Homo sapiens: one gene and its partner. The protein of the gene in region 2 purifies or fractionates together with the protein of the main gene of each other region. This does not show direct contact. Each region holds a gene or a part of one and is shown on either strand. Other genes may lie near its edges.

The links. Proteins that work in one complex are often made in the same cells at the same time.
Region 1: the proteins of TLR5 (region 2) and PRXL2A purify together in Homo sapiens (affinity purification with mass spectrometry; 2 studies listed by BioGRID and IntAct, with this or other methods). This does not show direct contact.

What each region holds. Positions count from the first base shown.
Region 1 is NC_000010.11:80,411,526-80,418,550, forward strand, and holds part of PRXL2A (peroxiredoxin-like 2A isoform 1 precursor), read left to right. Parts: intron 1-2,307; exon of another isoform or gene 2,308-2,348; coding exon of another isoform or gene 2,349-2,351; intron 2,352-7,025. UniProt on the Homo sapiens protein: Involved in redox regulation of the cell. Acts as an antioxidant. Inhibits TNFSF11-induced NFKB1 and JUN activation and osteoclast differentiation. May affect bone resorption and help to maintain bone mass.
Region 2 is NC_000001.11:223,140,228-223,147,723, forward strand, and holds the start of TLR5 (toll-like receptor 5 precursor), read right to left. Parts: upstream 3,022-7,496; 5' UTR 2,969-3,021; exon of another isoform or gene 2,434-2,968; intron 1,537-2,433; 5' UTR 1,421-1,536; intron 1-1,420. UniProt on the Homo sapiens protein: Pattern recognition receptor (PRR) located on the cell surface that participates in the activation of innate immunity and inflammatory response.

The DNA of each region.
Region 1 (7,025 bases), on a different chromosome or scaffold from region 2:
AGTCATGGACTGGAAGTTGGGAGACCCAAACCTGAGTCCCAGTGCAGCCACTGACAACCTGCCCTGCCCATGTGACCTTGGACTAGCCAGCTCCTTCTCTGAGCTTTAGTTTCTTCATTTGCTCAGTAAAATGAGCTGAACCAGCGCTTTGAGGGAAGGAGAGGGAAACAGAGGAGACCAGAGAAGGAAGATGAAGCATCCTTTCAAGACTTGTTCACTGAGGGCCTGAGGCAAGGAGGCCCATGTGCACTCTTAGTTTTTTGTCTCCCTCAGCACCTTTTCTTGCTTCTCCCCTATCTCTGCCTCAGGCCAGCTCATTCTGAAGAGGGACGATTCCCTGGGTGGGGCTGGGCTGGGCAGGTGTACCCTTGATGTTTAGAATATGATGCTGTCTCTACTTGTTTCAGACATGATTTAACTCAGCCAGTGCTGATACTTTGTTTCATTAAGACTTTATCAGTTCCTGCCCAGAGGCAGCTCCTGGAACAGTCAGGAGTTAGGCCCAGCAAAGGAGGCAGGGTGAATGTGCACACCCAGCAGAAGAACAGTGGTGGCAGGGGTTCCCATGGCTTTCTAGACATCAGATCCCTGTAGTTGCAGTCACATGGTACTTTAGAGTCTTTGGATGTCAGAGCTAAGACAACCTCATAGAATTTTGAGTTCCTTCCTCTGTATAGATGATGAGATCCAGGCCCCGAGTGTCTTCATACCTTAAGTCAGATTGCCCTGCTAGTGAGCAGTAGAGCGAGGACCCAGCCTAAGGTTACCTAAGTCCCAAGCTAGAGTGTTTTCTTTAATATCAAGCCAGCCCTGTCCAAAATTGCCTTTCATACTGAACTGAAATTGGAATTGAGTAGTTATAAGTTCCAAGTCTGCCTCACTGTGGAATTCTAAGAGTAAAATTCAGATAATTTAATTAACATTTAATGCCTGATAATTACCAGGATCTGTGTTGAGTGCTGGGGATGCAGGAATGAAGACGACAACACATTGTGCCAACATATTGTGGAGACAGACATGTAAATAACTAAAATTTACACAATTCATTTGTGCATTGTGCAGGGTTATGGGTGTGTGCGCACACACATGCACGCTATAGAAGAGGTCAGTGAGCAGTCAGTTGTCAGGGCTTTCAGGAAAGGCTTTGGAGAGGAAGTGTTATGTGTGCTGGGCCTTATGAATAAGTAGGCATTTACGTGGTTGGCCTGGGTCAGAGGGGGGCATCCCGGGCAAAGGAAACAACATGAGCAACACTTGCTGAAGCCAAGCTGTGGAGGGCCCCATCAGCTGGCTTGCTGAGGAGTTTATTGTTAGTGAGAGTCTGAACACAAGGGAAAGGTGTAATCAGGTGGGGGTGTGCTGGGATCGCTCTGACTACGGCTTGGAAAATAAACTATAGAGGACCAGACTAGAACCAAGCCAGATTCATTCTGTGGTTCTTGAAATAGGCTAGGGACAGAGTTATAGGATCCTGGGTTTGGGCAGCAGCAGTGAGGTCGAGAAGAGGATGGGTAGCAGATACATTTTAGAAGATGGACAGAACTTCCTGAGTCGATGTAGGCAGTGAAGGCAAATGAACAGTAAAATGTGAACCCCTGTCCCCCACTGTCCCCCCTCCCTGCCCCCCCATCTACTGAGCCATGGAACTCCAGCAGAGAAATCGACTTTAGTTTTGGATGTGGTACAACCAAGACACCTACAAAACCCCCAAGTGGAAACTTTGGGTCAGAACAGCAATAGGAACTTGGAAGTCAATAACAAAGTGGTGGGAGAAGTGCTGGAAGTCACCCAGGAAGGGAGTGTGGGTTGAGGGAAGCCACCGATGTGGCAGAAAAGGAAGGGAAAGCAAAAGGAGGTAAAGAATAGACAGCAGATGAGGGGCCTCAGAGGTGCCAGCTGACTTTCCAGGCCTGGGGTGAGGAATGGGGCAAGGGAGCAGGCTGCACGAGGAGCCACAGAGAAAAGGACATCTTCTTTTATTTGCGCTAGTATGACATGTGGGCTGTGTTACGAGCTTTGCTTCTTTAGTCTGCACCGGATAGCAGAGGAGTCTGGTGGCACTTGGGAAATGTTATAATCTGCATGACTGCAAATGACTCAAAGCTTTGCTCAACTTTTTGAAGGGCTAGGGGGCCTTGGCAGCTTTCCATTTAGATGTTTTCTGGAGACTGACTGTTGGCAGCTGAAGGAGCCCCAGGGTTTCTGGGTGGCCTGGTCCTGCCTATGGAGTGACTGAGCCTAGGGACCTAGTCCCGCCTCCAGCCCTCCCCTTGCCGCCTGCCCAGGCCCGTCTGCTCACCCCTGGATATACTTCTTTGTCAAGAGAAGCAGAGGTGTGGACGCTGTGTATGGTGAGTGCCTTGTTCCCAAGTTTGAAGCGTCTGAGGTTGGGGGTAAGAGACCGTTTGAGGAAGGGAGTTGCCTTGTATAGGAAAGAGACAGGGTCTCGAAGCTGGAAACTGAATTTGGGGCGGTGGGGGCAGTGTTGAGGAGCCTAGAATGTTCTGACTCCAAAGTGACCTGTTTTTGTTAGACTCATAGGATGTCACTGGGGATCATTAGGAACTTCCTCATGGAGTTGAGAAAAATGGGGCCTGGGGAGGAATTGATTCAGCTTAGCCTAGGGAGCCCGACTGGGTCTCGTCCTCTTGCACCCATGTTCAGACCAGAGCTGCCACTCTGAGCTGCCACAGCTGTTGTTTGTTTGTGGCTTTATCCTACTTCACCTTCTGTGGGAGAGGGTGGATCAGATAAGCCCAGCAGTGGGGAACTGAATGCTATAGCTGTGTCAGGTGGGGGCTGGCTCTTCTGTAAACAACCCTACTATTCTGTTTCAGAGAAACTGACCCTTTCCTTAATGGAAGGGGGGATAGAAAGGGGGAGGAAAGAGAAGGAACATCTGGTGTATGGTAAATTTCCTTTAGAGTAAACATGGTTTGACTGTACACGATGACTGAAAAAACAAGGTGATTAAAAACACATTCTCTTTAAGACAGAGGGAATCATACTCCTGGATCTCCAGGACCGACTTCTTTCTTCTTTTCTTTGTTAATCAACAATTACAGCAGATGTAAACCCACTTCTGAATGTGTGGCGAGGAAAGGTAGTCTTTCAGGCTTTGGAGTCCTATTCCTGTTGACTTGGGTCCAGGTTGTAGTACTGCTGCCTGCTGGCTCTGTGACACAGGGAAGTTACTGAACTCTGAACCTCAGTGTTAGCTGCTAAACAGGATAATCTTTGCATCACAAGACTGTTGAGTGAATGAAATTAGGCCATTACTGACAGCTTCTAAGACGACTGGCTGCAGAGGTACGAAGGATTGCTGGCCTCCATACCTCTGCAATCTTAGAGACCCATGTGAAAATGCATCATTTCTGTTTAGAAATTAAAATTCCTTTGATTGTCCTTTTTTGTGTGTAGGAAAAATTGTGATTTCAGAATTCAGGGTCTGCTCACTGTGCAGCAAGTCACAGTAGTACGTGCTTCAAGACATGCCAGGATGGGAGTTGCTTTGTAGCCCAGGGGACTTGGATAAGAGGCTAGGCCTGTGTGCTCTCCAGGTATTCCTGGAAGTGAATTTTCTGTGCTTCTCTCTGGCACAAGAGTGGGCTGCTAGAGGCCCACTGGGTGCGGTCTGTCCATGGAGAGGCCTGATGCTCACCACTGGTCCTGATAACACTCTCAGCATGGTGCTGCAGTGCCTGAGGATGGGGTCCACTGCCCCAGAGGGCTGAATCTCTGCTCACACTTTCAGGATCACAGTGGGAGGTCAGAAGACAGCACTTATGGGGGTTTTGAGGTCTGGATCTTGTACCCAGCCCTTGAACTTGAGGTATGGAGATGGGGGTCTTTGGAACATAGAGGTTTGAGTTCTCAGGGTTCCTTCAGCACTGACACCTGCCCCAGTCAGCCTGCTGTCTCCCAGCTTAGCTGGCCCCATCCCAGCCTAGCCTGTCCATGCTGCCTCCTGTGTCCTACACCGGCTCCAAAGCCACTTCCTTCTGGGTGCTTCTGTGGCTACCCAGACTGGCTGTTATTCCTGCACCACCATAGCCTCATGCCCATACATTGCCCAAGCTGCCTCACCTTCCCACTTGATATTTTTTTGTTATTTGTGTACCAGGTCCATATTTTCTTGAGGATTGTGTATCATTTTATGTCCTCCCAAATCGCCATTTATTGAACAGGTCAGTACTGAATAAATGTTTGGAAATAAATGTTGAGTCTAGTTGAGTTGAATTCTCTTGTGCCTAGGAGCAAACATGCCAAACGCCCATCACTGGACAGTGGGAAGGTGGAGGCTGTTTGAGTGTGGCAGGGGTGTGTTGGAAGAATGTGGAGCTGACTGTGAGGGGCCCTGGACTTTGTGAATGCACTGATGTGTCCTAGGAGTCAGAGTCCATTTGTGGGATAGATGTAAACTGGTCTTTGTATACTGACGCAGAAATGCCCATCAAATCTGTGATCAGAGACCATTCTATGTGCTCCTGAGTCATAACACAAGTCAGAAATCCAGGAACATTTTGGAAGTGCATAAAGGTACAGAAGTTGTTCCAGGCTCTGGGAAATCTCTTGTTTACAGCAAGCAGATAAGAGCTGTGGTTTTCCTCCTAATTGTTCTGTGAACTGTCATCCAGTAATGTGTAACTTTGTCAAATTAAAGAATTGGAAGCAGGCCTGTGGCAGGTTCTTTCCTGTTTGTCCCAAGAACTTTAGTTGTCCATAAGCCATTGTCTCTGTAATTCAATTCTGTTGAATTCATTTCAGCATGCACTTGTGGTGAGCCTGCTTTGTACCAGAGGTGCGCTGTGCTAGGTATGAGAGATTCAGAGATAAACTGCAGAATGTCACCAAAGGAGAGAAATCTGACAGGTCCAAACCAGTGTGTCAAGCACATCAGAAGAAATGTGGGTGATGTTTGGGCACAGAACTGAGGAGGGGGTGAATCAACACCTCTTGGGGGTAGAAGTGGGAGGCTGGAAGTAGGGGGCTGGCAGAACATCAGGGAAGCCTTCTTAAAGAGGCCTCTGAGTTGTGAAGCACAGAATGAAATAGGATATTCCAGGCAGAGGGGTAGAGATGTGTGCACGTCTGTAATGTTCTGTTCTCAGGGTCTTGGCGGGGGGCCCAGCTCTCCAAGCCCAGACCGCCCTCGTGACTTTACTTTATTCTGGTGGCTGATGGCCAACCAAGCACGAAGTCCTGAATTCTTTGCTCTAACACAATGCTTCTCAAACTTTAACGTGCTTATGAATTGCCTGCCAGTCTGACTAAAAGGCAGTATAAGATTCCTTAGTTCTAAGGTGGGGGTTGAGATTCTTCGTTTCTAGATGGTGCCATTTATTGGTTACATTTTGAATAGTGGGTAGTAAGAAACTCTTCTTTCTCAGCACAGGTCCCTCATGTCAGACTGTTGTACCCAAGCGAGTTAGTGAGAACGCCACACTTTGAGACGAATTAAGAGTCCTTTATTAAGCGGGTGGCCAAAGAGACGGCTAACGCTCAAAATTCTCTCGGCCCCGAGGAAAGGGCTTGATTAACTTTTATACCTGGTTTAGGAAGGGGAGGGGGACTCAGATGCAATAATTCTACAGAAGTAAAAACATGCAAGAATCAAAAGAAGCAAAATGGTTACAGAGAGATAAACAATTTAAAAGACAAATGGTTACAAAAAGAGCAACGGTACCAGGTGCAAGGCTCTAAATCTTTCATTATAATTAGATATAGGGAGTATGTCGGACCCGAACTCAAGGCTTTATGTTGTTATCTCTTTAAGAAAAATCCTGGGAACTTCATACATTGTTGGTGCTAGTACCTTATCAGTTAATTGGGCTCCTTTGAAACGCTGAGGATCTGCTTACACAGGTCAACTCCTTGCGGAAGGGGGTTGGGTAAGGAGCCCTTAGTGTCTTGTAAATTAAGGGGTCAATTGGAGTTTGTCTGGCTTTCCCAGCTAGAAAGAGTCTTATTTACAGGAGAAGCAAGGCTAGGTGATTAAAGAGACAAGCAGGATAAAATTCAAAGTAGCGAGTTAGAGTAAAAACAAGGTTAGGCATTTCAAGACAACCATAGCAGCACCCCCTTCCCCAACACACACAGGCACTGATTTTCCCCTTCTTTTTCCGCTTCCCAAGTATATAGATGCCAAATTCCTCTTTCTTAGATGTTGTTTTTTGTTTGGTTACCCCCGTTACCTGGAACTTCTTTTCTTCTTCTTCATCTTTTTTTTTTTGTTTTTTTTTTTTTAAAGACAAGGTCTTGCTCTGTCACCTAGGCTGGAGTTCTGGGCTATAGTGATCCTACCACCTCAGCCTCCCAAATAGCTGAGACCACAGGCGTGTGCCACCATGCCCAGCTAATTTTTTATAGACAGGGTCCTCCCATGTTGTCCAGGCTTGTTTCAAACTCCTGGGCTCAAGCAACCCTCTTGCCTCAGCCTCCCAAAATGCTAGGATTACAGGCAGGAGCCACCGCACTCAACCAAGGTTCTCTCTTATTCCTTTTTTTTTTTTTTAATTATTTTAGATTCATGGGGTACATATGCATATTTGTTACATGGGTATATTGTGTAGTGATGGAGACTGGGCTTTTAGTGTACCCGTTATCCAATAGTGACCCTTATACCTGATAGGTAATTTTCACCCCACCCTCCCCTCTTCAGCTGTCCCCAGTGTCTGTTATTTCTGTCTTCATGTCCATGTATACTATTGATTAGCTCCCACTTGCAAATGAGAACACGTGGTATTTGATTTTCTGTTTCTGGGTTAGTTCACTTAGGATGATGGTCTCCAGCTCCATGTTGCTGCAAAGGACATGATTTCGTTCTTTTTTTATGGCTGCCTCTTTTGTTTCTTAAATCTGAATTTCCATGTGGCTTCAATGCTAGTCTGGCCTACCCTTTCCTTCCCAAAGTCACCACCAACTCACTCCCACCCCCACCTCATGCAGTGCACCCCTCACAGCCCCCACCCTTGGCAGTGACATTTGGATTTCCAGGGCCTTTCCTGATCCTTTAGAGACATCCT
Region 2 (7,496 bases):
CATAAAGTAAAGGAGGCACACAAAAAACGCATGGTCAGGCTGGGTGTGGTGGCTCACGCCTGTAATCCTAGCACTTTGGGAGGCCAAGGCAGGTGGATCACCTGAGGTCAGGAGTTCGAGACCAGCCTGGCCAACATGGTGAAATCCCATCTCTGCTAAAAATACAAAAATTAGCTGAGCATGGTGGTACGTGACTGTAGTCTCAGCTACTTGGGAGGCTGAGGCAGGAGAATTACTTAAACCCAGGAGGCAGAGGTTGCAGTGAGCCAAGATCACACAAATGCACTCCAGCCTAGGTGACAGAGTGAGACTCTGTCTCAAAAAAAAAAAAAAAGGCATGGTTAGAATGCTATAAGAAGGGCATCATGGCTGGGTGAGGAAGAGAGTGGCAGGACCCACAGCCAGAATTCCCGGAAGGCAGGAATTTGAATTGGCTCTGGGCAGCAAGTGCCTTTCATTATTCTGAGCTTCATATATCCTCATGCTTCCTTTCCTAGGCCTGGCCAAGCCCTTGATGGTCATTCTTAAGTCAAGCTGAACACCAGCTGGCTCTGTGAAGCTCTCTCTTCCTTTCCCAGTCAGTCTGCACTAGCTGTCTTCTTTGAGCTAGCAGATGCTGCCACATACTTTCGCACTTAATTGCGCTCTAATTGTTTCACAGGTGCTGGTTTTGTCTTCCTACTTAGACCTAGGAGCTTTTGGACAGCAGGGACTATGCCTCAAACTTGGGTTTGTCCCAGAGAGCGGAAGACACTATACGCTGTTGCTCTCACATTAAGGGACCAAGGCTGGGAATCACTTAAGCTTCAGAAATCTGATTGAAGCTTTGGATCTGCCTTCTGCATTCTTTTCCACAATGTTAAGAGTGAAACAAACACATCTGGATGCAGTAACTGGACATTCCAGTGCTGTCTGCTGTTTAAGTCTGTTAGTATACAGAGACAAATAAACAGGAGAGTTTTGCTTTCAACACTCAGCAGAGCCAAACTTCCTGATGCACGGGAATGAACAACGGAGGCACTGTTCTGGAAACACCGTCCTCCAGAGAGGCGCTCCCTCCTCAGAAACAACACCGAAAACCTGGCATGGCTGGTTTTGCATTCAGACAATGGCACCTACATGCTTTTTGCTTTGCTCAGAGCTGTAAATATCCAAAGAGGTGATCCTCTGCCATCATTTTGGAAGGAAGAATCAGTCAGACTGATAATTAGGGTCATACGCACAGGCATGGTCATGCTGATTGTTGAAATTTAGATTATTTTTGGCCCAGCACAGTGGCTCACACCTGTAATGCCAGCACTGTGGGAGGCCAAGACAGGCGGATCACCTGAGGTCAGGAGTTTGAGATCAGCCCGACCAACATGGTGAAACCCCATTTCTACTAAAAATACAAAAATTAGACAGGCGTAGTGGTGGGTACCTGTAATCCCAGCTACTTGGGAGGCTGAGGCAAGAGAATCGCTTGAACCCTGGAGGCAGTGGTTGCAGTCAGCCGAGATTGTGTCACTGCAGTCCAGCCTGGGCGGCAGAGTGAGACTGTCTCAAAAAAAAAATTACATATATATATATATATATATATATATATATATATATATAGAGAGAGAGAGAGAGAGAGAGAGAGAGAGAGAGAAAGAGAGAGAGAGAGATTATTTTTGTACTGCTTAGTAATTAGCTTTAGCACGGTCTCTCCTCTGGGACCTCCCCTGGAATTTCCCCACAATCCAGTAACTGAATAATTAGCATCCAGCCCCACAGAACTTCTCCCAGGGCCCTGCTCCAGGGCTTCCCTTCTGACTGGCTGTGCATGGCACACTGGGAATTGTTTTCTGCCCACAAGAACAAGGGTGAACTGAGTCAAGGAGTCCAAGAGATCTTGGACGCACTTCTCAGAATTCGGAGGGGCTGGGTAAATGCAGGAGAAAATTGATGAAACCACATTGGCCCTGCAAGAGCCTGACTGCTCCTGCACGGTAGCTACCCCTAGCATTAGCGGGGAGTCACCAATGCCTCTTCCAGGCACTGAGCAAGAGGGCGGCATTACAGATGCACTTGCCGTCCAAACAGATCATCTCATTGACTAGGTGACTGCTCAGCAACAGTATCTGAAGGACACTAGGGTTACTCTGCTTGTTTGCAGTTCACGGTGCTGGACGGATGTGTTCCCAACACTAGGTAACAACACCGCTCTCCCTCCTCCGGGAGAAAGCCGCAGCCGTCGATTCCCACCCAACAGGGCCTCAGCGCCTTCCCAGGGCAGCACCCTCACTCCTGCAACCACCAATCACCCAAGCCACAGCATGGTCCCAGACCCACCCTCGCCCCTTAGGAAATGGCTTTCCAATTGTGTTTTCACAGGAGCATGGCCACTGGGCAATGATCTTCACAGGCAGGCTTTTTTTTCCCCCTCTCAACATAAAGGCCAGCAATATTTACCACGGAGTCTTGGCCAGTGTGCACTGCCTGGTGCTGTGGGGTGGGGTGTTTAGGGCCTTTTGTTGAGCAGCTCAGTGACTTTCTGGGATTTCCATGGCCCTGCTGGAGATGGCCCTCTGTCTCCCTTTTCCAAGGAAGAAAGTGACTGGGGACAAGCCACCTGCCTCTTCCACAGGGTGGGGGCGAGAGTGACAGCGAGACAGCACAAGAAGGACCCGCTCTGTTTCAAAGCGAGGATGTGAGTGACTTCGTCTGTGCCGAGGTCTCTTCGTCTCCAACCTGCCGGGCACAGGGCACCCACATGACACGCTCACCCCGTCCCTGGGCCGAGGGACCCCACGTCTCGCGGGTGCCGCGGGGCAGAGAGCGCCGCCTAGTGAGGCGGCGCGAGTTGGACATAGACTGGAAAATAGACCCGGACAGCCCGGGAGGAGGGCGGAGAGGAGTCCGACCTCCGCAGGCAGCCGCGTCCCCGCCCCGCGCTGCCTACGACTTAGGGCCCCCGGCCCATCCCCTGCCGCTGCAGGGCGCTCACCTCTGGGACGCCTCCCCGCGCCGCCTGCGCCACGGTTGGCTCCTCCCGGACGCAAAAGCGGCGCCCTCGCTCGGGCTCCTGAAAACCTCGCGGCCCCGCCCACGGAAGGGCCCGCCCACCTGCCAGGCCACGCCCCCGTCTCGGCCACGCCGCAGCTCAGGGTTTTCTCTGAGGGCTGTGAGAGGCTAGGCCCGGGGAGAGGAGGCAGAGGTTATGCTCCGGTCTCTGCAGACTTCCACAGTGTCTATCGAGATCACACATGCCAGCATTGCCCCCTCCCATCCTCTCCTCATCGTACGGAGGAGGAAACCCAGGCCGAAGACCTGAAGTGTCCAAAAGCACAGCCAGGCCAAAGAGAAGCACCATCCCATGTTCTCCCACTCCCACTCCGGTGCTTCTTCAGGTAGGCTAAACTTCAGGCTAAAATGTGAAGATCACAGTGACACATTCCTGTCAGCAGAATCTGCTGCATATGTTTGGGAGCTGGGGTGTTTGGAAGCTCCGATTTTGTGTGGAGGACCCAAGAGAGAAGACAGACCCTTCCTGTCCTATAAGAACAGTGCTCCTCCTGCCCTAACTTCTCTTTTCCTTTTTCTAACTCCCTCTGCCTATGGGGTTTGCTGAAACTTTCAGGAAAAGGGACGTGTCAAAAGAAAGAAATGGACACCCCAGAGGCCGTGCAACCACAGGGTTAAAAGGAGGTAGCCTTATGAGAAAGCGGTGGAGTGGCTTTCTGGGGTGAAACCCAGTTCAAGGACAGAAATAGCACTGTCTTGAGTTAAGACTGGTGGTGGGGGAAGCCTGGGGGTGGGGCGCAGACTGCAGGCGGAGGAGCTCCCTGCCACCTGCCACTTGGGGTGTAATCACAGAGCAGCTGACACTCCCCACTCACTGCCTGGAGGAGCTTGGCGGTGGGATCGGGCAAGGCGGGAAAGATAGGTGTAAAACAAAGCCTGGCACTTAATTACAGTGCAAAGATCTCATTATAGAGTCTTCTCAGCTCCCCTCCTCGGCTGGCAGCTTGAAGCCTGAGTGACAAATTGCCTAGGTAGGTCTCCAAGGGCTGTATGTAGAGGGATGAAACCACCTCCCTGCCCACCCGAACCCCACTGTGGGGGCTGTGGAGAGGGAGGGGATGTTCACACTCTGGCATATGCAGGGGGCAGTGGGGAAGTCTGTAAGGGCACCTAGAAAGCAGTAAGAGCTGGGAGCCACAGTGGCCCTAGCCTGACATAAATAACACCTTGCTGGGGCAAGCCCAGTGTTCCCTCTTTTGGTAGTGGAACCGAGGGCAAGGTTGGGGACAGCTTGACGTGTGGCACTGTTTACTCTGCATCATAGGTGGATGCTGCAAGACCAGCAGGGGCCTGGCTTATCATGCAACTTTGTGAATATGTGGGAGAGAGGAGCCTTCCAGACGGTGTTATGGCCTCCCAGGAACTCCCAAAGCCCCCTCCCCAGGGTGGCATCTGGTTTTGGACACTGGTTTCTGTCACTGAGCTCCAGGGACTCATGTCACACCTGGAAGAACTTTTAGATTCTGTCTGCCTGGCCATGTCTTCCAACAGCCGAGATCATTGAGGAAGATGACAACTTCTACCTGAACAGCCAGGACAGCTTAGGGTCTTCTCACATGTGGACCTTGAAATGCACTTCTGTTATTTTTCTCCAGTATATTCAGGGGAAGGGGGCTGGTGATCAAAGCTTTTGCTGAGCAGGAACAGAAGGGTTGTCACTTGCTTTTTTCTCCACTGAAACCTAGAGTAGCAAACACATCCTCGGGGTGCTATGTGATGCTCACAGGCAGAGCCCTGCCAGAGGTTCCCGTCATTCCCATATATTAAACCTTCAATGTCTTCCCTATGAACTACAAACAAAGTTTATATTCTAGGTCAAAACCCCATCGTCTAGCCCCTGACAACTTCTCTAGGCTTGTCTGCTTCCAGCCCCAACCTCCCAGTCCCCAGCCTCAGCAGCTGCCTTCCACTTGCTTAAGGTCTTCACGCATGCTATTTCTTCTACCTGGAATACTCTTTCTCCATGACTTTGCGTAGCTCACTCCTACCCACATTTTAGTGTTCCCTGTAATGTAACTTCTTCAAAGAGAACTTCCCTAACTCTTCTAATTAAATTAGGTCCCTCCCATTATTCTTCCTCTTTATAACCTATTCTTTTCCTTCACAACTCTCATTTCAATTTATGATTTTACATGGACATGTTTATTGGTTCAAGGTCAGCCTGTCCTTCATACTTAATAGATTTAATAGACTGTAAGCCTCACGAGGGTAGGGGCCATGTCTGATTTGTTCACTTCAAATCCAGTATCTGACAAGTGTCTCCCTATAAATATTTATTGATGAATGAATGAGTGAATGAATGATATCAGCAATCTTTATCTTAAAAGATAAAATTAGAACTCAATAAACTTGTAAACATAAGCAGTAGTGACTATTTCCATTAAAAAAGGTAGCAACCAAAACAAGATTCAAGGAAATACAAATACCAAGGTTTATTAGGTACTTCTTAAAACTAACCATCCATTCAACAAATGTGTATTAAGCTTCCGTAGCCCTTGTGCTTCTTGCCAGAAATACAAATCTAAATACGATCTGGCTCTCAGGAGCTTGCAGCCTGGGGGAGTAGGGTTGGACATGTAAATAAATGGTTATAGTGTAATTTGATAAATGCTGCAATAATATAGGTATCTAACTCTGCCTGGGAGTGCCTATATCTGGGACTTGGTGAAAAAGAAAAAGATGACTTTGTCACCTGGACGGGACAGAGGGAGGGCATTCTGGGCAGGAGACGAATGAAGGAATGTGGCTCATTTGGGGAACTGCCAGTGGTTTGGTAAATGGAGCGCAGGTTGTGTGAAGGATGGAGGCGGTTGAAGAGGTAGGTAGGCAATCACCAGATCCCACGTTCATGCACATGTGTTCTGCTGAGGAGTCTGGGCTATGCTCTGCCTCCCTGTAGGGCTTGGGGATCCACTGGATGGTGTTAAGCAATGGAGTGGCACCACACCTTCATATTTATAGACAAGAAGTTATAACCCTAATGGCAGTGTGTAAAATGAATGGAATGGGGGATGGGATGGTTAGCAGAAAGTAAGCCCAGTTAGGAGGCTACAGCAATTGTCTAAGCAACGATAATAAGAGTCTAAATTAAAGCAGTGGCATTCATTCATCTCTGTTGATATATATTATTTGATGGTTAGTTTTTTGATGATAAATATTTGTTGATGCTTAAAATATATTTTGATGCATAATATTATACCCCATCCCATGCTAGGTGGTAGGGTATAATATTAATAGTCAATATTTATTGAGTGCTTACCATGTGTCCTGTTCTTTTCTAAATACTATACATGCATTAACTGATTCAACCCTCACCACAACCCTATGAATCAGTACTATTATCATCCCCCATTTTACCAATGGGGAAACTGCGGGAGAAGAGGTCATATAACTTCCACTTACTTAGATACCTAATAATTGATGGAGTCAGGATTTGAATCAGGTAATTGGGCTGCAAAATTCATGCTGTTAAGCACCATCCCTTACTGATATTGTGGTAATGAACAAGCTGGACAAGGTCCCTGGTCTCATGGAACTTACATTCTGGCACTGGAGATGTAGAGGAGAAGACAGAGTGGGGCAAGGTTTAGATTGTAGAATCAGAAAAACTGGATCCTTATAAGAGAAAGAGCAGTCAGGGCAAATTCACAAGACACTGGCTTTGTGATTGGTGGATAGTTGTGTCAGTCATGGAGTTAGGAAATACAAGCTAGGGGTGGTAGGGTGGCGGAAGGTGAACTTGGAGGGATGAGTTCATTTTGGGATAAACTGGTGTTGGACTGACTGTGGGATATGGAGGTGGAGCCATCGAGTGAGCAGTTGAAGTCATGTGTCCAGAGCATAGAAAAGATGTTTATATGGAGACAATGGGGGGATCAAAGATGGGGGGACAGTTGGAGACATAGGCGGAAAACAATAGCTAGAAGACAGGCTTAGTCCAAGAGTTCATAAAGGAAAAGATTGATAAATTCAACTGCCTTAAAATGAAGACCTTGTGTTCATCAAAAGACATATTTAAAAGAATAAAAAGATAGGAAACAAAACCAGAGAGATGCTTGCAACACATATAACTGCCACAGCCCAAGCATCCAGATTATCTTCAGAACTCATACAAATCAGTAAGAAAAGTCAGTAGAAAAATGGACAAAAGATACAGGCAGATACTTCATAAAAGAGGAAATATAAGATGACCAATAAATAAATGAAAAAGTACCAAACCTCATTAGAAATCTTAGAAATGCAAATTAAAGCTATAATACATCACATATTATATAAATCATATTGGCCAAAAATAAAATGTCTGACAATAAAAAGTGTTGGTGACGATATGGTGCAAACAGAATTCTCACTTGTTGCTAGTGGAAATGTGAATTGGTATAACCACTTGGTAGAAGTTTGGCACTGTCATGGAAACTTGAAGATTCACATGCCCTAAGACCTAGGAACTCCAT